Regions from separate parts of the Homo sapiens genome. Here regions 2 and 3 are each linked to region 1. The links come from fine-mapping of genetic effects on plasma protein levels. Region 1 holds a variant in brackets. A gene starts in each other region. All regions are shown on their reverse strands.

What was found. PIP is the posterior inclusion probability: the model's chance that the variant is causal. The UK Biobank Pharma Proteomics Project read protein levels with antibody pairs (Olink). The fine-mapping took linkage between variants from a reference panel, not from the people measured, so its PIPs are less certain.
Region 2: it holds the start of ENTPD5, and the variant in region 1 is fine-mapped to the plasma level of the ENTPD5 protein (UK Biobank, PIP 0.92).
Region 3: SIL1 starts here. The variant in region 1 is fine-mapped to the plasma level of the SIL1 protein (UK Biobank, PIP above 0.99).

The regions. Positions count from the first base shown.
Region 1 is chr12:29,383,305-29,390,936 of GRCh38, reverse strand. It overlaps OVCH1-AS1 (OVCH1 antisense RNA 1), which reads right to left and starts at 1,643. Exons shown (of 2, transcript NR_073172.1): 1 at 1,084-1,643. The variant A/G (reference allele first, on the strand shown) is at 3,561.
Region 2 is chr14:74,018,502-74,025,779 of GRCh38, reverse strand. ENTPD5 (ectonucleoside triphosphate diphosphohydrolase 5 (inactive)) reads left to right here and starts at 6,492. Exons shown (of 16, transcript NM_001249.5): 1 at 6,492-6,530. It overlaps BBOF1 (basal body orientation factor 1), which reads right to left and starts at 6,431. Exons shown (of 12, transcript NM_025057.3): 1 at 6,246-6,431; 2 at 2,636-2,864. The coding sequence starts at 6,301. RefSeq lists enhancers at 3,680-3,974, 3,740-4,034 and silencers at 6,315-6,564, 6,595-6,664, 6,675-6,814, 6,855-6,924, 6,840-7,134.
Region 3 is chr5:139,195,816-139,203,447 of GRCh38, reverse strand. It overlaps SIL1 (SIL1 nucleotide exchange factor), which reads left to right and starts at 5,080. Exons shown (of 10, transcript NM_022464.5): 1 at 5,080-5,179. RefSeq lists a silencer at 4,875-5,404.

The sequences.
Region 1 (7,632 bases):
GAAAGAGTCTTCCAAATGTGAACATTCTGGCCTAGAACCCTTCCCATTTCCATCAACCCAGAATACATCAAATTTTCAGAAGACAATCTTTCCTAGGACTTGTAAAACAAAATGTACAAAATATATTAGTTTACTAACTCTACTTTTGTCATACACTGGCAACCTCTTTAACATCCAGAAAGACTAGATGTTGTCAATTAGGATTCGTCTGTCCTTTATGTACACTATATACACAGATAAGTAAAACAAAACGCACAGAGATAATGATTCATCTTGCCTCGCTGTAAACAGGATGTCATAGAGCTCTCTGCACCTCCCCCTCCTCTCTCTTCCCCTGAACCACACTGCACAATGAGCATTACTCAACAGGTGATTTGGCCATTCCCCCCAAAAAACATTTCCTATGATTTGTAACAAAAAGGTATTTACAAAATGTGATTTTGCTACCTCTAATTTTAACATATCAGGCACTTCAGAACATCTAAAAAGAATAGACATTTCAAAAAAGCTTAGCATTGTCAACTATATACACAGTAGTGAAGAATAAAATGCACACAAAACAATGGATAGAATATGAAAATGTCTTCTAAATATGACCAGTCTAGCACAGAACCTTCTTCTCTTCCTTCTCAGGTCTTCCACCTCCATGTCATCTAACCCACTTAACAAACGTGGACGTATCGCTTCCAGAGGCCGTCTTAACAACTCCATTTCTAAAAGTCATCTCCAGAAGACATGTGTTTTCTATGATTTCTTTTAAACAAATGAGAATTTACAAGATGTGTGACTTTCTATTTTATCATATGTCGGCAACCTCTTTCCATCTAGAAGGGCTAGATGTGACAAATGTTTTCTATTAAAAGGTTGGGGTGAAGTTGAGAGCAGCTTTTTCATATTATATACACAGGCCTTACATAAACGGCCAGTAAATCTTCCCAGAGGGTGGTGGGCATTTCCAACGGGCCAAACGTGGCCTGTCATTCTACCATTTCTCTCTTCTGACAGCAAAGTCTGGTAGAACAAAGACCAACCGCCCGATAGCCGCTAACCGTTCCACCCGTCGTCTTTCGGGACTTCACTCACCTTCCAGGCCCCTGAAGGCCTTTGTCCGTTGTCGTCAGGACTAGGTCGGTCTCGCCCAATGGCGACAGAGTGGTCACCCGGGAACCGGATCTGCGCGGCTCCGTGGCCTAAAGAGGTGGCCGAGCCTGCTTGCGTCCCTAGGCCGCCTTCCCGGGCCCTCCACGCCTTAATGGCCTCCGCCGCGCGGCGTTCAAGCGGCCGCCATACTTTCCGGCCCACCACGCCCGGCGCCGCCCAAAGGCGCTGCGTCCCAGCGACTCTGCGGGGGTTTCGTCGAGGCCCGGCAGGCTTGGGTCGGGAGACGCGGCGGCCGGCGGGGTCCCGTCGGGGAGACGCAGCCGCCGCCATCAGTCATCCAGGTGGGGTGGGAAAGAGAGGTTCGCTGCGGCTTCAAGGCCTGGGCACAGCCAGTGGGCAGCCACAGCAGAGGCCTCCGGTATCTGCAGGGCAGAGGCCTCGGCCTGTCCCGGGGCCCCCCAGTTCACCCGCCGGCCCGGGTCCGGAGGGCCTGGAGGGCCCTGGAGGAGCTGGCTGCGTTCTGCGTCTCTCCGCGCTCTCTGCCAGACCGGAACTGAAGTTAGATTTTTGTATCAGGAAATATAAAAATATCTTCTGCTCTGCTCAGTTGAATGTTCATTTTTTTCTCATAGCATCATGTTTTTTTCCTTTTCTTTATAATTAAGACAGTTCATCATGTACATAAAAATCACATACATGAAGGCACACACATACACAAATGTACTTGTCTTAGATATTCTCTTAGGTTCAGTTGGGTTTATTAATATATAAATATTAACAGGTAAAAATAAAGTAGTAATTGTTACAAGGATTGTTATAAGGCCTGTCACTCTGGAAGGCCACATTTGTGTCTCCAAAGTCCAGCACAACATTTTAAAGAAGGATGAATTTGAAAGTCATTGGATGAGACAAGTATGCTATCTTCATGACCCCTGAAAACATTTGAGTTTCACAGGTGATAAGATTTGTCAGCATTTCTGAGTATTTATTTGTGTCATATTATTGAAATTAAAATTTGACCATAGCATGTGAATTAAATAGGTTACCACTTTTTAATGTAATAGAGAACAATAAAATATTTATATTATGTCTTAGGCACTTAGTTTTAAAACCTCACCCACTTTTAGCATACAATTATGCTTTTAAAAGGTTTAAGAAATATAAAAAGAGCTGAAATGACTTAAAATATAGATTATAGAAAATACTAATAGATGAAATAAATACATTTATGATGAAAAGAAGAACAGATAATATTGATGAAAGAATATTTGGAAATGGAAAGTAAAACACTAAATTAGAATGTTGTAATCAATATAGATAAGTATTTGAAATGAAAAACGTATTTCAGCTGAGTATTTTTGCACTGAAAGATATTGGGCCTACGGTACAATATGTTAAATACATATAGTAATATATTATTGATAATTATTAAGACTATGTACTAACACCTATCAAGATAAATAACACCAGCCATATATTTTTGGGGAGTTTATTTATTGGATCCCTTTTTACCCACAATATATAGTACAAATTCCATGAGGGTAAGAGTGTCTGCTTTGTCACTATGACAAAGTACTTGGTACTTAGCACATCATTTGTCATATTAAAGGTGCTTAATGAAATGAATATTTGTTACAAGAGTGGCCAGACTGCAAGTTCAGTTGACAGATCTGTGGTTCATTTGAGCCTATTAATCCTATTAAAATATTGCACAAACAATGCTTTATAGATAGAAGTGATTACCTTGCTGAAACAGAGGTATCAGATGGCACAGACTGTGCATGGACTGAAAGTATTTATTCATCAGCTGATTATGAAATCTAAACTTGTCATGTGAAAAAGTGATATAAGACTTTTAAGGTCAGGCGCCATGGCTCACTCCTATAATCCCAGCATTTGGGAGGCCAAGGTGGGTGGATTATTTGAGGTCAGGAGTTCGAAACCAGCCTGATCAATACGGTGAAACCCCGCCTCTACTAAAAGTACAAAAATTAGCCTGATGGGGTGGTGGGTGCCTGTACTCCCAGCTACTTGGGAGGCTGAGGCGGGAGAATCGCTTGAACCCAGGAGGTGAAGGTGAAGGTTGCAGTGAGCCGAGATTGTGTCACTGCACTCCAGCCTGGGGGACAGAGTGAGACTCTGTCAAAAAAAAAAGACTTTCAAGTCCCAACTTGGCATATGAAAAAAAAAATGATTTGAAAGAGTAAACTACAATGTTTGAAAATGTAAATTTAAAATCAGACTATATCACTGAGGATCACCTGTGGTTGAAGCAAGTGATAATGAAGGCCTGGTGTATAGCATGAGATCGGGAATAGCCTCATGAATAAAACTGATGGGTCACTGGGATTGGCAGCTAGAGAAAAGGTGGAGGAGACACAAAAATTCTAACCTGGTTAAGTTTGAGGTTAATGGTGCCATTGACTTTTCTAGGCACAGAGGAGAAGAAATAGATTTGG[A/G]GATAAATTATGAAATCCACTTGGGTACTGGGCACGGTGGCTTACACCTGTAATCCCAGGACTTAAGGAGGCCATGGTGGGGACAGATCACTTGAGGGCAGGAGTTCCAGACCAGCCTGGGCAACATGATGAAACCCCATCTCTACTGAAAATACACACACACACACACACACACACACACACACACACACACACACACAATTAACCAGGCATGGCGGCTCATGCCAGTAGTCCCAGCTACTCAGGAGGCTGAGGCACCAGAATTGCTTGAGGTGGAGGTTGCAGTGAGCCGAGATCGCGCCACTGCACTCCAGCCTGAGCAACTGAGTTAGACTCTGTCTCAAAAAAAAGACAAAAAAAAATCCATTTTGGATGTGCTGACTTTGAGGTGCTTATGGGCATTCCATTGTAAAAATTATTCATTTATTAGTTTATCTAAATTTTGCTGCTCACTTGCTGAAACTTTTACTCAAACTAGAGAAAGAAAAAAATGGCACAAAAGCACCTTTTGATCATCTTTACTAAATACAGGTTGTTATGGAACAATTATTAATCTCAGTCTGAAACCTATTGAGAGGTGACAGCGTGCCGGCAGTCCTCACAGCCCTCGCTCGCTCTTGGCGCCTCCTCTGCCTGGGCTCCCACTCTGGCGGCACTTGAGGAGCCCTTCAGCCCACCGCTGCACTGTGGGAGCCCCTTTCTGGGCTGGCCAAGGCCAGAGCCGGCTCCCTCAGCTTGCAGGGACGTGTGGAGGGAGAGGCCCCAGCGGGAACCGAGGCTGCGCGCGGCGCTTGCGGGCCAGCTGGAGTTCCCGGTGGGCATGGGCTTGGCAGGCCCCACACTTGGAGCAGCCGGCCGGCCCTGCCGGCCCCGGGCAGTGAGGGGCTTAGCACCCGGGCCAGTGGTTGCGGAGGGTGTACTGGGTCCCCCAGCAGTGCCAGCCCACCGGTGCTGTGCTGATTTCTCGCCGGGCCTTAGCCGCCCTCCCGCGGGGCAGGGCTCGGGACCAGCAGCCCGCCATGCCTGAGCCTCCCACCCCCTCCGTGGGCTCCTGTGCGGCCCGAGCCTCCCAGATTAGCGCGGCCCCCTGCTCCACGGCGCCCAGTCCCATCGACCACCCAAGGGCTGAGGAGTGCCGGCGCACCGTGTGGGACTGGCAGGCAGCTCCACCTGCAGCCCAGGTGCGGGATCCATTGGGTGAAGCCAGCTGGGCTCCTGAGTCTGGTGGAGATGTGGAGAACCTTTATGTCTTGCTCAGGGATTGTAAATACACCAGTCAGCACCCTGTGTCTAGCTCAGGGTCTGTGAATGCACCAATCGACACTCTGTATCTAGCTACTCTGGTGGGCCTTGGAGAACCTTCATGTCTAGCTCAGGGATTGTAAATACACCAATCGGCACTCTGTATCTAGCTCAAGGTTTGTAAACACACCAATCAGCACCGTGTCTAGCTCAGAGTTTGCGAATGCACCAATCGACACTCTGCATCTAGCTACTCTGGTGGGGCCTTGGAGAACCTTTGTGTGGACACTCTGTATCTAGCTAATCTGGTGGGGATGTGGAGAACCTTTGTGTCTAGCTCAGGGATTGTAGGTGCACCAATCAGTGCCCTGTCAAAACAGACCACTTGGCTCTACTAATCAGCAGGATGTAGGTGGGGACTTATAAGAGAATAAAAGCAGGCTGCCTGAGCCAGCAGTGGCAACCTGCTCGGGTCCCCTTCCACACTGTGGAAGCTTTGTTCTTTCGCTCTTTGCAATAAATCTTGCTACTGCTCACTCTTTGGGTCCACACTGCCTTTAAGAGCTGTAACACTCACCGCAAAGGTCTGCAGCTTCACTCCCGAGCCAGCGAGACCATGAACCCACCAGAAGGAAGAAACTCCGAACACATCTGAACATCAGAAGGAACAAACTCCGGACATGCCGCCTTTAAGAACTGTAACAGTCACGGCGAGGGTCCGCGGCTTCATTCTTGACGTCAGTGAGACCAAGAACCCACCAATTCCAGACACATTTTGGCGACCCAGATGGGACCTTCGCCAATCACCAAGCAGTAAGACCATCGCCTATTGCTGAGCGGTGAGACAATCACCTATTGCCAAGCAGTGAGTACCATCGGACCCCTTTAGCTTGCTATTCTGTCCTATCTTTCCTTAGAATTTGGGGGCTAAATACCGGGCACCTGTTGGCCAGTTAAAAGCGACTAGCGTGGCCACCGGACTAAAGACACGGGTGTCAGGTTTTCTGGGAAAGGGCTCTATAACAACCCCCGACTCTTCGGAGTTGGGACCATTGTTTTCCCTAGAACCAGCTTCTGCTTTTCCAGTACTTCTGGGCTGAGCCGAGGGTCGACAGAGAGGAAAGCCATGCAGCTCTGGGGTCCCGACAACAAGTTGGTTGACCCTGCGGCCATGAGCAGAACTCTCAAAAGCATGTCGCCCAAGCGAGACTCGCCCATCTATCCTATCTATCCTGACCCTTGCCCCCTGGGTCCTAATGCCTGTCAGACAAACTTCCTCTTGCCTCTCTTCTCTGAGGTTAGTCCCGCTTCTAAAAATTGCTACCGTCTCTGGTGCTTTTCTAGTTTCTCCTATAAGAATGATTTCTAGTATAAACTCCAGGACTCTGTTACCTTCTTTAGGCACCCGGGCTCACCAATCAGAAAGACATAATTTTTGCCCAAAGCCCCATCGTAGTGGGGACTACCTGGAATTTTAGGATCCCTCCTCAGACTAACAGGCCTAACAAAAGCTATTCCTGAAGCTAGGATATGGGGAGCCTCAGAAATTATATCCTTCCTATTCATATAAGTGAGGACAAAAGGTGTCACTCTTCCAAACCTGGAGATCCCTTCCCTCCCTCAGGGTATGGCCCTCCACTTCATTTTTGGGGCATAACATCTTTATAGGACAGGGGTAAAGTCCCAGTACTAACAGGAGAATGCTTAGGACTCTAACAGCTTTTCGAGAATGCGTCGGTAAGGGCCACTAAATCGATTTTTCTCAGTTGGTCCCCCTTGTGGCCTAGGAGGACAGGCAAGGGTGCAGGTTTTCGAGAATGCGTCGGTAAGGACCGCTAAATCTGACTTTCCTTGGTCCTCCATGTGGTCTGGGAGGAAAACTAGTGTTTCTGCTGCTGCGTTGGTGAGCGCAACTATTCCGATCAGCAGGGTCCAGGGACTGTTGCGGGTTCTTGGGCAGGGGTTGTTTCTGCTGCTGTGTTGGTGAGCGCAACTATTCTGATCAGCAGGGTCCAGGGACCGTTGTAGGTTCTTGGGCAGGGGGAGAAACAAAATAAACCAAAACGCGGCAGTTTTGTCTTTCAGATGGGAAACACTCAGGCATCAACAGGCTCACCCTTGAAATGCATCCTAAGCCATTGGGACCAATTTGACCCACAAACCCTGAAAAAGAGGCGGCTCATTTTTTTCTGCACTACGGCTTGGCCCCAATATTCTCTCTCTGATGGGGAAAAATGGCCACCTGAGGGAAGTACAAATTACAATACTATCCTGCAGCTTGATCTTTTCTGTAAGAGGGAAGGCAAATGGAGTGAAATACCTCATGTCCAAGCTTTATTTTCATTGAGGGAGAATACACAACTATGCAAAGCTTACAATTTATATCCCACAGGAGGATCTCTCAGCTTATCCCCATATCCTAGCCTCCCTATAGCTCCCCTTCCTATTAATGATAATCCTCCTCTAATCTCCCCTGGCCAGAAGGAAACAAGCAAGGAAATCTCCAAAGGACCACAAAAAACCCCGGGCTATTGGTTATGTCCCCTTCAAGCTATAGCGGGAGGGGTATTTGGCCCAACCCGGGTACATGTCCCCTTCTCCCTCTCTGATTTAAAGCAGATCAAGGCAGACCTGGGGAAGTTTTCAGATGATCCTGATAGGTACACAGATGTCCTACAGGGTCTAGGCAAACCTTTGACCTCACTTGGAGAGATGTCATGCTACTGTTAGATCAAACCCTGGCGTTTAATGAAAAGAATGCGGCTTTAGCTGCAGCCCAAGAGTTTGGAGATACCTGGTATCTTAGTCAAGTAAATGACAGAATGACAGC
Region 2 (7,278 bases), not on the chromosome of region 1:
TGTTTTAGAAGGGAATCTGAGTAGCTTTTTAAACTAAAGACTTGTTGACATGGTTGTTGACACAAGTGAGATACTATGTACAATGTTTTAGACCACCTTAGGAAAAAATCTAGATATTCTAAAAAATAAACTGGGACAATCCTAAATCACATAAAACTGGTGTGACATTTAATGAGATTATTCTGTGATTAATTCAGTACAGCATTAAATTCTCTTAAGGGGAATCTCCTAATTTTGTTCATAATAAAATAGTTTTCAAAACACATTTCATTTCTATTATTTCTATAATTAACATGACTATAAACAGTTTAAACAAAGTTTAACAACATAACATTTTTCTAGTATATAGCAAAATGAGTAACAAAACTATGGGAAAGCTAGTTAATGAGGATATATTTAGTCTACTTTGTTTCTTCCTCCCAAGGTTGTTTCTTTTGGTTTAATGGCAATCCATGATTATAAAAATTACCCACCTGTTACTGCCAGATGCTGCCCTTTGATATAAGGAGGCAGATGAGAATCAGGAAGTACAAGTGATACTGATGTAGACCAATAACAATGAGCTATTACAAGCCACAAAACAAAGCATCTAAGTAACACATTTGGAAATTATTTCTATGGTTGACTAAAAAAACTTACTTTAGAACAATACTTTATAGAGGGCAATTTAATAATACCTACTATTAAAAGAGTAATTTTAAAAATAAAAATTGGCCAGGTTTTGTGGCTCATGCATGTAATCCCAACACTTTGGGAGGGTGAGGTGGGCGGATCACTCAAGGCCAGGAGTTCCAGATCAGCCTGGCCAACAACATGCCAAAACCCCGTCCCTACTAAAAATACAAAAAATAAAATAAAATAAAGATAGAAATTTCTGGACCAGGTGCTATTGCTCATGCCTGTAATGTCAGCACTTTGGGAGGCTAAGTTGGGAGGATTTCTTGAGCCCAGGAGTTCGAGGCTAGCCTGGGCGACATGGCGAAATCCCATCTCCACAAAAACTACAAAAAAATCAGCCAGGCATGGTGGCTCATGCTTGCAATCCCAGCACTTTGGGAGGCCAACGCGGGTGGATCACTTGAGCTCAGGAGTTCAAGACCAGCCTGGGCAACATGGCGAAACCCTGTCTCTACCAAAAATACAAAAAATTAGCCAGGCATGGAGGTGCGTGCCTGTAGTCCCAGCTACTTGGAAGACTGAGGCAGGAGGATCATCTGAGCCCGGATGTCGATCCTGTGGTGAGCCGTGATCATACCACTGCACTCTAGACCAGGCAATAGAGAGAGACCCTGTCTCAAAAATAATAATAAAGTAATAATAATATGAGACAGAGTTTTGCTCTGATGTCCAGGTTGGACTGCCGTGACATGACCATGGCTCACTGCAGCTTCAACTTCCTGGGCTTAAGTGATCCTCCCGCCTTAGCCTCCCGAGTAGCTGGGACTACAGGTGCACACTGCCACGCCTGGCTATTTTTTACTTTGTGTAGAGACTGGGTCTTGCTTTGTTCCCCAGGCTGGTCCTGAACTCCTAAGCTAAGTTATCCTCCAGCCTCTTCCTCCCAAAGTGTTGGGATTATAGGCATGAGCTACCACACCCAGCCTGAATTTCCACTTTTAACACCCACTAGGGGTGTGACTTTGGGCAAGTTACCTGTCCTTTCTGAAAGTCAATTTCTTCATCTGTAATATGGAAATAACAATATTATAGCTACATGGGGTCATAAAAATAATTAAATAGGAGGTTAGTAAAAGAATCAAGAGAGGTAAAGCACCCAGTATAGTACATTGTAGTGGCTCCAAAATGTTAGTTCCCTTCCCTTTTTCTTTTCTTTTCTTTTTTTTTTTTTTTTTTGAGATGGAGTCTCTCGCTCTGTCGCCCAGGCTGCCAGGCTGGAGTGTAATGGTATGATCTCAGCTCGCTGCAACCTCTGCCTCCCGGGTTCAAGCAATTCTCCTGCCTCAGCCTCCCGAGTAGCTGGGACTATAGGCACATGCAGCCATGCCCGGTTAATTTTTTGTATTTTAGTAGAGACGGGGTTTCACTGTGTTGCCCAGGCTGGTCACGAACTCCTGGGCTCAGGCAATCTGCCCACCTCAGCCTCCCAAAGTGGTGGGATTACAGGCGTGAGCCACCACACCCGGCCTCCTTTTTTCTTCCAAATATAAAATGATAGCTTTACTCTCAACACTTTAATAAGGTACAATAAGATACAAGATTCAACTGGCCAAAAATAAAAATAAAGATTCAACTTGCTGGGTTCAGAAAGTTATCATGGATTATCAGTGAACTGCTTTACAAATTTTTAAAACTAAAAATCAGCATCAAAAAATATATAGATCACATACCATGCTCTTATCCTTAAAATAAAGTAGATCATAAAGTTCCCTTATGATCATCAATCTCTGTTTGCTTCAGACAAGAAAACATGCAACAAGGATTGAAAATAAAAGAGAGCCGATAACAGTAAAACCATTCTGAAAAAGTGTCTTGCTTCAAACAGAGTTAAGGTCAATTGAAATGTCTTAAGTATATGTTAAGATTTCAAGGAATTAAAAATCTTTGAAATACATAACCACATCAGCATCACCATAGAGGTAGTTAATGAGGCCAAGGAGGCTTTCTACCTACCTACCATATTATCTTTCTCCTGATCCTGCTTCTTCAGGTAACTTAATACTGACATTATGTCTTTCTCCATTTTACATTGCTTTTTCTTTAAGTCCTCATTACTTTTTGCCAGTATCCGTGAAGTATCACGATACTTAATCCTAGAGAGTTCTGTGACTTCCAACCTGGCCTCCCAAAGGGAGGCATTGGCCTTGGCTCTGTCCACCACAGATTCATCTGTTTTTATTAACTTCCTGCATGGGAAGAGGATATTGACAGTATATGACTATTTATACAACTCTAATATGCAGATAGTATATAACTCTATTATATTACTATTAAATTTTTCTCTTTTTTTATTTGTTTTGCTTGGCATTGCCTGGCACACATGATCAAATATTGTTGGAAGAATAAGTTAATAAGAAATACATATTCACATTTGAAAAAAGAAAAAAAAAGAAATACATATTCACTTGTATTCACATAAGATAATTAAGTAAGTGCCTCTTCCTGGAGGAGGGGAGTCCTGGAGCATAACTCGAAAAGACTGGTAAAACAAAGGGAAAAGACAGGATAAGCCAAACTCATTTCAGAAAGCTTTCATATCTTTTTTTTTTCTTTTTGAAACTGGGCCTGGCTGTGTCACCGGGCTGGAGTGCAGTAGCACGATCTCGGCTCCCCAGAACCTCTGCCTCTTGGGCTCAAGCCATCCACCCACCTCAGCCTCCCAAGTGGCTGGGACTACAGGTTCATGCAACTATGCCCAGCTAATTTTTGTACTTTTTGTAGAAATGAGTTTTTGCCATGTTGCCCAGGCTGGTCTTGAACTCCTGGGCTCAAGTGATCCTCCTACCTCAGCCTCCGAAAGTGCTGAGATTACAGGTGTGAGCCACTGCGCTTGGGCAGTTTTTATACCTTTTCATTTACTTATTTGATTCTCCCATATTTATTTTTTTTTTAATAGAGATGGGGTCCCACTATGTTGCCTATGCTGGTCTCCAACTTCTGGGCTCAAGTATCCTCCCACCTTGGCCTCTCAACGTGCTGAGATTACAGGTGTGAACCAGTGCCCTAGCCTGATTCTCCTGTAGTTAAACTATCTTTTCTATTCCTACTCACTCAGTGCTGGACTTTGGTTCTCTCCACTGCAAACCCATTATCTCTGTTCAGTTTCTGCATGATGATACCCATTGGTAGTATAACTGTGATCTCCCACCCACTTTACCCTCCACTTTTGAGTGTGTTTTTTTTTTTTCTGGGGGAGGGACGGAGTCTCACTCTTTCACCCAGGCTGAAGAGCAGTGGCGTGATCTCGGCTCACTGCAAGCTCCGCCTCCCAGGTTCATGCCATTCTCCTGCCTCAGCCTCCCGAGTAGCTGGGACTACAGGAGCCCGCCACCAGGCCCGGCTAATTTTTTGTATTTTCAGTAGAGACGGGGTTTCACCGTGTTAGCCAGGATGGTGTTTTTGTTTTGTTTTGTTTTGGGCTAGGTCTTGGACAAAAAGTCAAGTCACTAGGGCAAATACGTTAAATAGTTTATCAGCTGGTGCCACAGTTCACCGGACTTTTTTTTTTTTTTTGAAACAAGATCTTGCTCTGTCATCCAGGCTGTAGTGCAGTAGCACCATCACAGCTCACTGCAGCCTCAACCTCCCAGGCCCAAACGATCCTCCACCTCAGCCTCCTAAGTAACTGTGACTACAGGCATGAGTTAGCATGCCCAACTAATTTTTAATAAAAATTTTTGTAGAGACAGGGTCTTCCTATGTTGTTCAGGCTGGTCTTGAACTCCTGGGCTCAAGTGATCTTCCCCTGCTCAGCCTCCCAAAGTGCTGGGCATGAGCCACGATGCCCCACCCACCGGGCTTTAAGGATGCCTGAGAAACCATAATCATTTATATAGAGGTGGAGAGGAAAAAGGATGGATTCAAAGATTAAAGTGGTAAAGGAAGAGATTTTTCTAAATATTTATTGTATAAGCATTAACAAAACACTCCCCCTTATATATGGTAGGTACCATGATATATAAATATGTACATATTTAAGAATATTTCACCTGTATTTGAATTCTAAATATTTTCACACATATGTACATGTGGACCTTTCTATACTGCCACCCTCCACATCCACTTTCCTACCTCTGGTTCTCAGTCCTCTTCCACAGAGGTAATGGGTTTGCAGTGGAGAGAACCAAAGTCCCACTTTCACCTTTTGTTCTCTTCAAATTAAGGCCAGCTCCATTCCCAACCCCTCAGCCTGTTATAGCTGTTGATGTCCCTTTCTGGCATGATTTAGGCACTAGTGATACACTGTCTCACTACGACCATCCAGGTATCAGGTCTGAGTGGCTCGAAGTACTTGATGCGACAGGGCATGGTGGCTCACGGCTGTCATCCCAGCACTTTGGGAGGCCGAGGCGGGTGGATCACCTGAAGTCAGGAGTTCGAGACCAGCCTGGCCAACATGGTGAAACCCTGTCTCCACTAAAAATAAAAAAATTAGCTGGGCGTGGTGACGGGTGCCTGTAATCACAGCTACTCGGGAGGCTGAGGCAGGAGAATTGGTTGAACCCAGAAGGCAGAGGTTGCAGTGAGCTGAGATCGTGCCATTGCACTCCGGCTTGGGCAACAAGAGCAAAACTTGGTGTCAAGAAAAAAAAAAAAGTACTTGATGCAAGAAATTAGACACTCTAATAGGACCACTGATACTCACTGTAGAAACAAAGCCAGGTTTCTCAAACAATGGGTCATGGAAAATCCAAGGAATAAGGTCTCTTACCCTTAGTGTTCCTCATTGTTCAAATGTGTACTGTAGAAGCATGGTCAAAATCTGAAAACATATGTTAGTGAGTTCTAGGAATGTGATAAGCCCTTGGCACTTTAAGGGCTAGACTAACTGTGCAGTTATGTAAAAACAAAAAAAAAATACCATAAAAGAATACTTACATTAACAAATGGGAAGAAAAAAGCCACATATAAGTATGTACATTGGGCTATCGTTTTATTAAAAAAGAATACTCCAAAATATAGTAGTGTTTATTTTTGGATAATGAGACTACAGGTGATTTTTGTTTTTTCTTTTGGTACTTCCCATGTTTCCCAAACTTTCTGTATTGAGCATGAATTACTCTCTTAAGTTACTTTACAAACATCTCAAGTTTGGTGCCAACTCTGTGTTCCCATATATGGTGTTGTTGCTGGACACCACGTATGACTCCAACGTGTCCAGAAACCACCGGGGTCCCCCAATAGGGCTAGTAGCAATCTAGCAGCAACTCCAGGCCTGTAAGGGGTTAGTGCTAGAACATTACCCACCTCAGTGGCTCTGATCAGTTTGGGAAAACCTCAATAATTATCCAACTTGGTAAAATACTTTAGGTGTCCCCTTTGAACCAAAAGAGATCTCTGAAAAGGCCCAAGGAACTACTTTATACATCCTCTACACGTTTAAGATAATCTGAACACATAGTAGAGATCTGCCAGACTATGGACATGGGAGCTGTAATCCTCACAAGCCGGGAGAGCCGGGGAGAGGGTCCGAGTGGGCCGGCGCGGGGGGCGCCAGGTTGCCAGCCCCAGACCCGAAATCCCAGGCAGGCCCAGGGAGAGGGGACTCTCGGGTGGCTTCTCCTTACTTCGTGTCTTTGCCTTTGCTCTTGCCTTTCTTTTTGTCCTTTCCCTTCGACGGCATCTTGGCTTCCCCAGGGGCTCCGCTGTCGTAGTTGCCCAGCCGCGGCCGCCCTGGCCAGCTCTGTCTCCAAGGGAACCGGGACGCCGAGCTGGCAATGCCCCACCCGCGCCGCTGACGGCGCGCGGAGAGCGCACGCGCCCGTGACGTAGCCCAGGCGCCGCGGCGCGCGGGGTGGGGCGGAGGTCGCGCCGAGGGCGGCGGGCTGCCGCGCAAGGGTGGCGCGCGCGCGGTGAGTGTGCGAGTGTCGGCGGCGCCGGATCCTCTACGTGGGGCCCGGGCTCTGCGGGCGGGAGGCGGGAGCTGGCAGCCCCAGGCGGTAGCGCTTCGTCCTGCGGCCTGGGTGTGTCAGGAGTCGCTGCGGTCGGGGCGCCCTTGCCTCAGGAGACTTAGATCCCCGCTGATCCGCCCGTCCCGCCGCAGTGGTCTGAGCCGCAGCCCTTTCCCGTGCCGCCCGCGGGTCCCGTTCCTCCCGTGTCTCCATGCCGCAGCCAGCGTGGCCGCGGCTACCTTGCCCTCGCCCCCGCTCCGCTTCTGCCGCTCCCGGCACTGCCTTACTCCTTTGGGTTGCATCTCTTTCCTGGCTTTTCACCCTTGCTGATTCTGTAAGGGATAGTGCAGCCAGCGGACGTCCCAGGCCAAATGTTTTTTGATAGGCAGTCGAGGACTTTCCCGAGGGCGGTGGTTGAGGGCGAGGCTGCCAGCCTCCGAAGAGCAGCGGCACGCCAGGGAGCCGGGCGGGGAGGGGAGTGCTGCCACCGAGGTCGGGAGCAGGGTCCTCGGCCTCACTAGGTCCTGTGTGGCCGATACTTCCTGCCCACGACCGCCCCCCGGATTTCCATTTGCTAATACCGGTCCGCAGCCTTCTTTCCTGAAAGTTGCATAAAGTTGGAAGCTCTTCAACTTGCCTCCCCGACTCCTGAAATCCCGAATACACCTCTGAAAAGGAGTGTACTCACAAGTATTCTCATTTTTCAATG
Region 3 (7,632 bases), not on the chromosome of region 1:
CAGCAGCCCACTCCATCTGAGTGCAGCCCAGGAAGTGGAGGAATCTGGTTCGGGAGCAGTTCTCCTGATTTCCCCTGGAGTGCCCCTTAGCTTCCTGCTTCTTCCATGTTGGCCCCTTGACTTAGCTTTTCTGGGAATGCTGAGTGCTCTGGCTTCACACCCCTGCCGTAGCACTGCCTCTCAGGACCTCTCAAGCACTGTTAGACAATAGAGCTTTTTTTTTTTTCTGAGATGGAGTTTCGCTCTTGTTGCCCAGGTTGGAGTGCAACAGCGTGATCTCGGCTTGCCGCAACCTCTGCTTCCCAGGTTCAAGTGATTCTCCTGCCTCAGCCTCCCGAGTAGCTGGGATTACAGGCATGCGCCACCATGCCCAGCTAATTTTTGTATTTTTAGTAGACAGGGGGTTTCTCCATGTTGGTCAGGCTGGTCTCAAACTCCCGACCTCAGGTGATCTGCCTGCCTCGGCCTCCCAAAGTGCTGGGATTACAGGCGTTAGCCACCGTGCCCGGCCACAATAGAGCTTTTTCATAGAAATGTTCCATCATTTTTGTTGTCCAGTATAGTGGACTGAGCATTTGAAATGTGGCTAGTGTAAATAAGAAACTGTATTTTAACTTTTATTTAATTTTAATTAAATCTAAACAACATGCGGCAATTGGCTACCATATTGGACAACACAGCTCTGAAGAGTTCAGTGGGAAGAGTTTTTGTTCATCTGCAAAATAAATCTGCCCCACCTACCTCACAGAGGTGTCTGGAACAAACAAGGTGATAAATGTGAAAGGGCTTTACTCACAAAAGGGATCTGAAAAGACAGCAGTGTGAACCTCTGGAGTGCAGTGGTGCAATCTTAGCTCACTGAAACCACCTCCCAGGCTCAAGTGATCCTCCCACTTCAGCCTCCCAAGTAGCTGGGACCACAGGCATGTGCCACCATGCCCAGCTAATTATTTTATTTTTTTATTTTATTTTTGGTAGAGATGGGTTTTGTCATGTTGCCCAGGCTGGTCTCGAACTCCTGAGCTCAAGTGATCCGCCTGCCTTGGCTCCCAAAGTGCTAGGATTATAGGCGTGAGCCACTGCACCTAGCCCGTTAATATTTCTGTTAAATGGTGCTTGCCAGGCTGTTTTGATCTGTTTACATTTCTGTGTCTCTCATTTGACCCTGAGCTCTTCGAGGGTAAGAACCAGTAGGACTGTTTCACAGTTGTACCCCCACAGCCAATGGCTGGCATGTAGCTTGGTGCTCATGTTCAAGTGAATAAAATGTCTGCAGTCCAGAAGGGACTCCTGGCAGCAGGATCTGAGTTGTGTGGTGAAAGCTGGGTGGGCAAAGAGGAAGGGGCCGAGGGGAGGAGGCAGATCAATACAGTGGTGAGACAAAGTGAGGGCTCCTGCTCCCCACTCAACATTTGAGGCCCATCCAGAGAGAGCAGGGAGCCAACTCCTGAAGCCAGGAATACTTTCACACAACAGGGTGTGAGGCTTGTGGGAGATTAATTGAGAAAGGCTGATCAGAGGAGAAATGATCTACTCAACATATTCTGCTTGTTGAGGAAGGCCAAATTGATTATAAATCTCCGCCTAGCCAGGGCTCTGGGGGTAGGTGCTGTGGTTTCCTTTGATTTGATTGATGGTGGCCGGGTTGAAGGTGATTCCTCAGTCTCTCTACCCTTCCAAGCCTTCCTTTGCTCTTCTGGGGAGTGGAAGAGGGATTCTAGAAACTCCCCAACAGAACTGCAAGAGAGAGGTGGTTTTTAGCCTGTTGTTTACTTATTTAAAAGGATTTTTTTTTTTTTTGAGATAGAGTCTTGCTCTGTCGCCCAGGTTGGAGTGTAGTGGCGTGATCTTGGCTCACTACAACATCCACCTCCCAGGTTCAAGCAATTCTCCCTGCCTCAGGCTCCTGAGTAGCTGGGATTACAGGCGCCCACCACCATGGTTTGCTAATTTTTGTATTTTTTAGTAGAGACGGGGTTTTGCCATGTTGACCAGGCTGGTCTTCAACTCCTGACCTCAGGTGATCCGCCTGCCTCAGCGTCCCAAAGTGCTGAGATTACAGGCGTGAGCCACTGCGCCCAGCCTAAAAGGAAATTTTAAACTTACTTTTGCTCAATTCCAAGACTTATATAAGGAAACAAAGAGAGGAGACTACCAAAATTCCAGCACCCACTGTGATCACTGGACTTGCACCCAAACTTCTCACCTTTACAGTGGGCCTCCTTGCTTAAGGCCGTGTAAGTAGAGGCTGTCTGCTTAGGTTCAACCTTGCACACTGGCTTCAGCAACTCAAGAGGCTTGATTTCAGAGCAAGTTCAGAGCAAGTTCCTCTGAGAAGGTAGTTCTGTCAGGGTATGTCTTTGTCTGTTGGGACTACTATAACAAACACCTTAGGCTGGGTAATTTACAAACAGAAATTTACTGCTCACTGTTCTACAGACCAGGAAATCCAAGATCAAGGTGCCAACAGATTTAGGGGCTGGTGAGTGCTTGCTCTCTATTTCAAAGATGGTGCCTTGCTGCCTTGCTTCACATGGTGGAAGGGGAGATCACTGTGTCCTTCCACGGCAGAAGGGGCAAGGCAGCTCCCTTCAACCTGACCATTTTTATTTTATTTTATTTTTTTGAGATGGAGTCTTGCTCTGTCGCCAGGCTGGAGTGCAGTGGTGCGATATTGGCTCACTGCAACCTCCACCTCCCAGGTTCAAGCGATTGTCCTGCCTCAGCCTCCTGAGTAGCTGGGACTACAGGTGCACACCACCAAACCCAGCTAATTTTTGTATTTTTAGTAGAGATGGGGTTTCACCATGTTGGCTAGGATGGTCTCAATCTCTTGACCTTGTGATCCGCCTGCCTCGGCCTACCAAAGTGCTGGGATTACAGGCGGAAGCCACCATGCCTGGCCCAACCTGCCCACCTTTTAATACTATCACATTGGATATGAGGTTCCAATGTATGAATTTAGGGGAGACACCAACATTCAGACCATGGCAGAGCTTTTCAAGGTTTGGAGACCAGGCCTGGGGTGGCAGTGGGAGACAGACTATCCCTTTCCTACCACATACCTGAGCTGGTTAGATCCGTCCCAAGGAGAAAGGCCCCGCTTTGAGCGCTGGCAGCTGTGTTCAGCTGGACTCTTCTCTTGGCCCAAGCATTCATTTATTCATGCTATTATAAGATTTGAGCTTATTCTATTTTTAAGGCTCTTACTCTTGTAGCACTTTATTAACATCTTTTTTATAACTCGTGCCAGTCTTATTATAATTTATATGTTCATTCTCTAATTTATCACTCATGAAATATTTGTTGAATATTTATTATCTGTACTTATGGTACTAGGCAGTGACATAAGCTAGAATTATTCTTAGGCCCAGTTCTTCTCACTGGTCTCCTGGGTGTTCCAGGGGAAAAGTGAGCTGTTCTCTTTCCAAATCAGGCCCTAGGTGTTTTATCTAGACCTTTCTCATAAACTGGCACTATTCACTGAACTACTGCCCAGGGGCTTGTTCTCCCTTCCCATACTAGTAACCAAGGTTTGCTCAGTGGCTATGAAGTCAGTTTCCCATCTGCTTGAAGTAAACATAATCAAGAAGGTAAATTGTCTGCTAGAAGCTCATAGAGTACATGGAAAAGGGAAGGGAAGTCCAGAAATAGGTTGTTTGCTATTGGGAAATACTTGCCATTTGGGGAGGTAACTGTCTGGATTACTGTTTTCTCCACTCATGAATGACCAGGAATCACTATGTGGGGGATCTGAGGGCAGGAGGGGGCAGTCATTTTTATTCATCAGGTTAAGCATGTCTAGGCAAGGGGAAGGTCTAAAAGTGGAATAGTGGAAAGAGAACAGGACATTGGAGACACTTAAATCTAGCTTTAACTCCCAGTTCTACCACTTCCTGACTGTATGACTTTGTATAACTCCTTTAGCCTCTTTGAGCGTCAGCTTCTCCATTTATAAAAAGGGGATGACCATTCTGCTCAGAGGACGTTATAAGTAAATAAAATATATATGCAGCACCTGGTACAGAAAGCATGATATTCACTGGTACAGCAGAATTACAACTGCGTTGACACCAGCCTGGGCAACATAGCGAGACCCTGTCTGTAAAAAAAAAAAAAAAAAAAAAATTAGCCTGGCAACGGTGGCACGCGCCTGTGGTCCCAGCTACTGGATGGAGGCTGAGGGGGAGGATCCCTTGAGCCTGGGAGGTCAAGGCTGTGATAAGCCAAGATCCTGCCACTGCACTCCAGCCTGGGGGACACAGATTCTGTCTTAAAAAAAAATCAGAATCGCAAGTGACCTTTATTTTATTTTATTAGATTTTGAGACAGAGTTTCACTCTGTCACCCAGGCTGGAGTGTAGTGGCACGATTTTAGCTCACTGCAACCTCTGCCTGGTGGGTTCAAGCGATTCTCCTGCCTCAGCCTCCCAAGTAGCTGGGATTACAGGCGCTCGCCACCACGCCTGGCTAATTTTTGTATATTTAGTAGAGACGGGGGTTTCACCATGTTGGTCAGGCTGGTCTTGAACTCCTGGCCTCAAGTGATCTGCCTGCCTGGGCCTCCCAAAGTGCTGGGATTACAGGTGTGAGCCACCGCGCCCGGCCACCTGATGCTATTTTTAAAATAACTGGTCCTTGTAAAAAATCTACACAAGTATATAAAGTGAGTGGCTTAAAGGTGTCCTATTTTGCATGAATTTGCGAGAAATTTTATTGCTGGAGACTCTCGGCTTCTGTCCCAAACTGAGTCACAAGAACTTGATTTATTTTTACTCCGCACCCCTCTGATTGCTTTCTGAGGGTCCTTCCGCTAGAAAGAAATTACATTGTTGGAAAATCAGACAGGAAACTTCGCAGTTCCAGCCTGGAAGCAAAAGCAGGCGTGAAGCTATCTCTTCAGCCCTCCCTCCCCCCAAGGGGAGGGGCACGGGGGCAGCTCGTGCAAGAGTCTGCAGAGGGCGGGGCTAGGGGCGGGGCTCCCACCTCGGTGCGGGGCGGGGGGCGCCGCGCGCTGGTCTGGCGGCCCGCGATTGGGCGAGGCCGCGAGCGGCGTGACAGCTGCCAGCTCACCGGCTCAGACGGTCGCCGCCGCGTTTGCGCAGGGGGAGCTGGTCGCCGCCGCGGCCGCCTGGAATTGTGGGAGTTGTGTCTGCCACTCGGCTGCCGGAGGCCGAAGGTAGGGGCGGTGAGGGCCGCCCGGCCCTGGAGCTGGGCGGGGGGCTCAGGGCGCTTCCTGGGCCTCCTCCTGCCGGCGGCCTCGGCGCCTTCCCAGCAGTGTTCTGGGGACCCACACATCCTCACTAGTGTCTCCAAAGCGGGACGTCCAAGTGGGCCCGGGGCTCCCTGCCGAAGGCCTACCTTTCTTATCTTTCCCACTCAGAATGTCTCCATTCACCTCTTTATTGGCAGGAGATGGGGCCGTGGAAATTTGAGATTGGCTTTGGCTCCGCACCTGTTTTTAGTGCCCTTGCCTGTTTCATTCTCCCAGCCTAAGTTTCCGTATCTGTCCGAAGAAGGGGTGGTTTGGTGTTGATCTCCGAGACCCGTGTGTCTCTTCCCATGTGGAATTATTGTCACTCTCTTATTGCTTGTTTTTCTTTGTCCTGGAAAATTTGCCTTTAGAGGTTACAGACTGGTTAGTGTTATCTCTCGGATCGTCTAGGGGCTTTGTGCATAAGCCTTGGGCTCCATTCCCTGGGATTTCCGATAAGATGGTGCGTGGGCAGCTGTACCCCAGGGGGTTCTCATTCAGGTGGTCCCGGAATCCTGGCTTTGAAAATCCCTGCTTCAGAAGTCAGGAGAGAATGACTTGACATATGAGCCCCTGGAATGGGGCTCTGAGTGGGAAAAGCCAGGAATCAGGAAATGCTAACACGTGTGAGGCTGGGGCTTTCTTTGCACCGGAGGAATTAGAATGCCATTTGATGTCTTTTAAAAATATTTGACTACCTATATATGTAAGATCAGTTTTCTAATATTCTTAAATGCCTGGCTTCGTTTAAAGTTCAGTTGGCTTTCCCACCTCAATAAACCTAAATAAAAACATGATCTGAGAGATGGGGCGGGGGTTAAGTTAACCCAAACTAAGTAGACAGGAGGAGAATGAAACTTACATATTTGCTAAGAGAAGAAAGTGATGTGTTTATAAACAGTTTTTTTTTTTTTTTTTTTTTTTTGAGGCGGAGTTTCGCTCTTGTTTCTCAGGCTGGAGTGCAATGGTGCCATCTCGACTCACAGCAACCTCCGCCTCCCAGGTTCAAGCGATTCTCCTGCCTCACCTTCCCGATTAGCAGGGATTACAGGCATGCGCCATCGTGCCCGGCTAATTTTCTATTTTTAATAGAGACAGGGTTTCTCCATGTTGATCAGGCTGGTCTCGAACTCCTGACCTCAGGTGATCTGTCTACCTCGGCCTCCCAAAGTGCTGGGATTACAGGCATGAGCCACCTCGCCTGGCATATAAACAGGTTTTTTTTTGACATTGTGAAAGATATTTTGTTGTGTGTGTGTGTCTTTTCTGCTCTCACCCCACCCAAGTTTTTTTCTTTTCTGATAAAAGTATAGCCAGATTTGGGGATTGGGTAGGATTTTGATGGGAGCCAGAGTGTAACGATATTGGGATTGATATTTGTATAACATGGGTCAGAACTTGGTCTGTGGTTTTGAGAACATGGCTCTCGGGTTTTTAAGATGGTGTTACCACACCACATTTATTTCCCCTTTCTTTCATTTGTTTAGTGAATTTAATCTGCTCATGAATACATGTGCTGTTTTAATGAAATTGGCAATAGAAGAGACGTTCTGCTCCCATTTTACAGGTGATGGAAATGTTAGTAGGGATGCGGCAGTCCAGGAATGAAAAGTTGCCTAGTACTTTGATTCCCACTTACTTCCCCTTCCCTGCTGTTTTCTGAAGGCCAGCTATTACTTCTCTACTGAGGCCAACTGTGAGCCCTGGTGTGTTTCATTGGCAGGAGAAGAGGCTAATTAAGTGAAACTGAAAGGTAACAAAATGGATTTTAAAATAACTGACATGTGGGAACTTGATCCACCAATGAATGTTCTCCTTTAGAGTGATGTGTGCAGGTGTAGGTGGTGGGAGTTGAGGATGGCGTGCCTAAGTGATTTGGCTGTTGTCCAAGGCAGTTTTGAAAATCCACCTCTGGAATTGTTTTCAGAGACCTTTTTGAACCATGCGAGAGATCAGTTTCTTTAATATATTAAACCATACTGTATTATTATTATTATTATTTTTCAGATGGGGTCTCACACTGTGGTTCAGGCCGGAGTGCAGTGGCATAATCATAGCTCACTGCAACCTTGAACTCCTGGGCTTAAGTAATACTCTCACTAAAGCCTCCTGAGTAGTTGGGACTACAGGGGCGCACCACCAGGCCCAGCTAATTTTGTAATTTTAATTTTTGTAGAGACAGGGTCTCGCTGTGTTGCCCAGGCTGTTTTTGAATTCCTGGCCTCAAGCGATTCTTCTGTCTTGGCCTCCTAAAATGTTGAGATTACAGGCGTGAGCCACTGCACACAGCCTATATATATTTAACCCCGAATGGCATGGGTAAGCAACCTTGTCACCTGCCTTGTCTTCAGATGAGTTAACAGTTCTTTTGAAGTGGA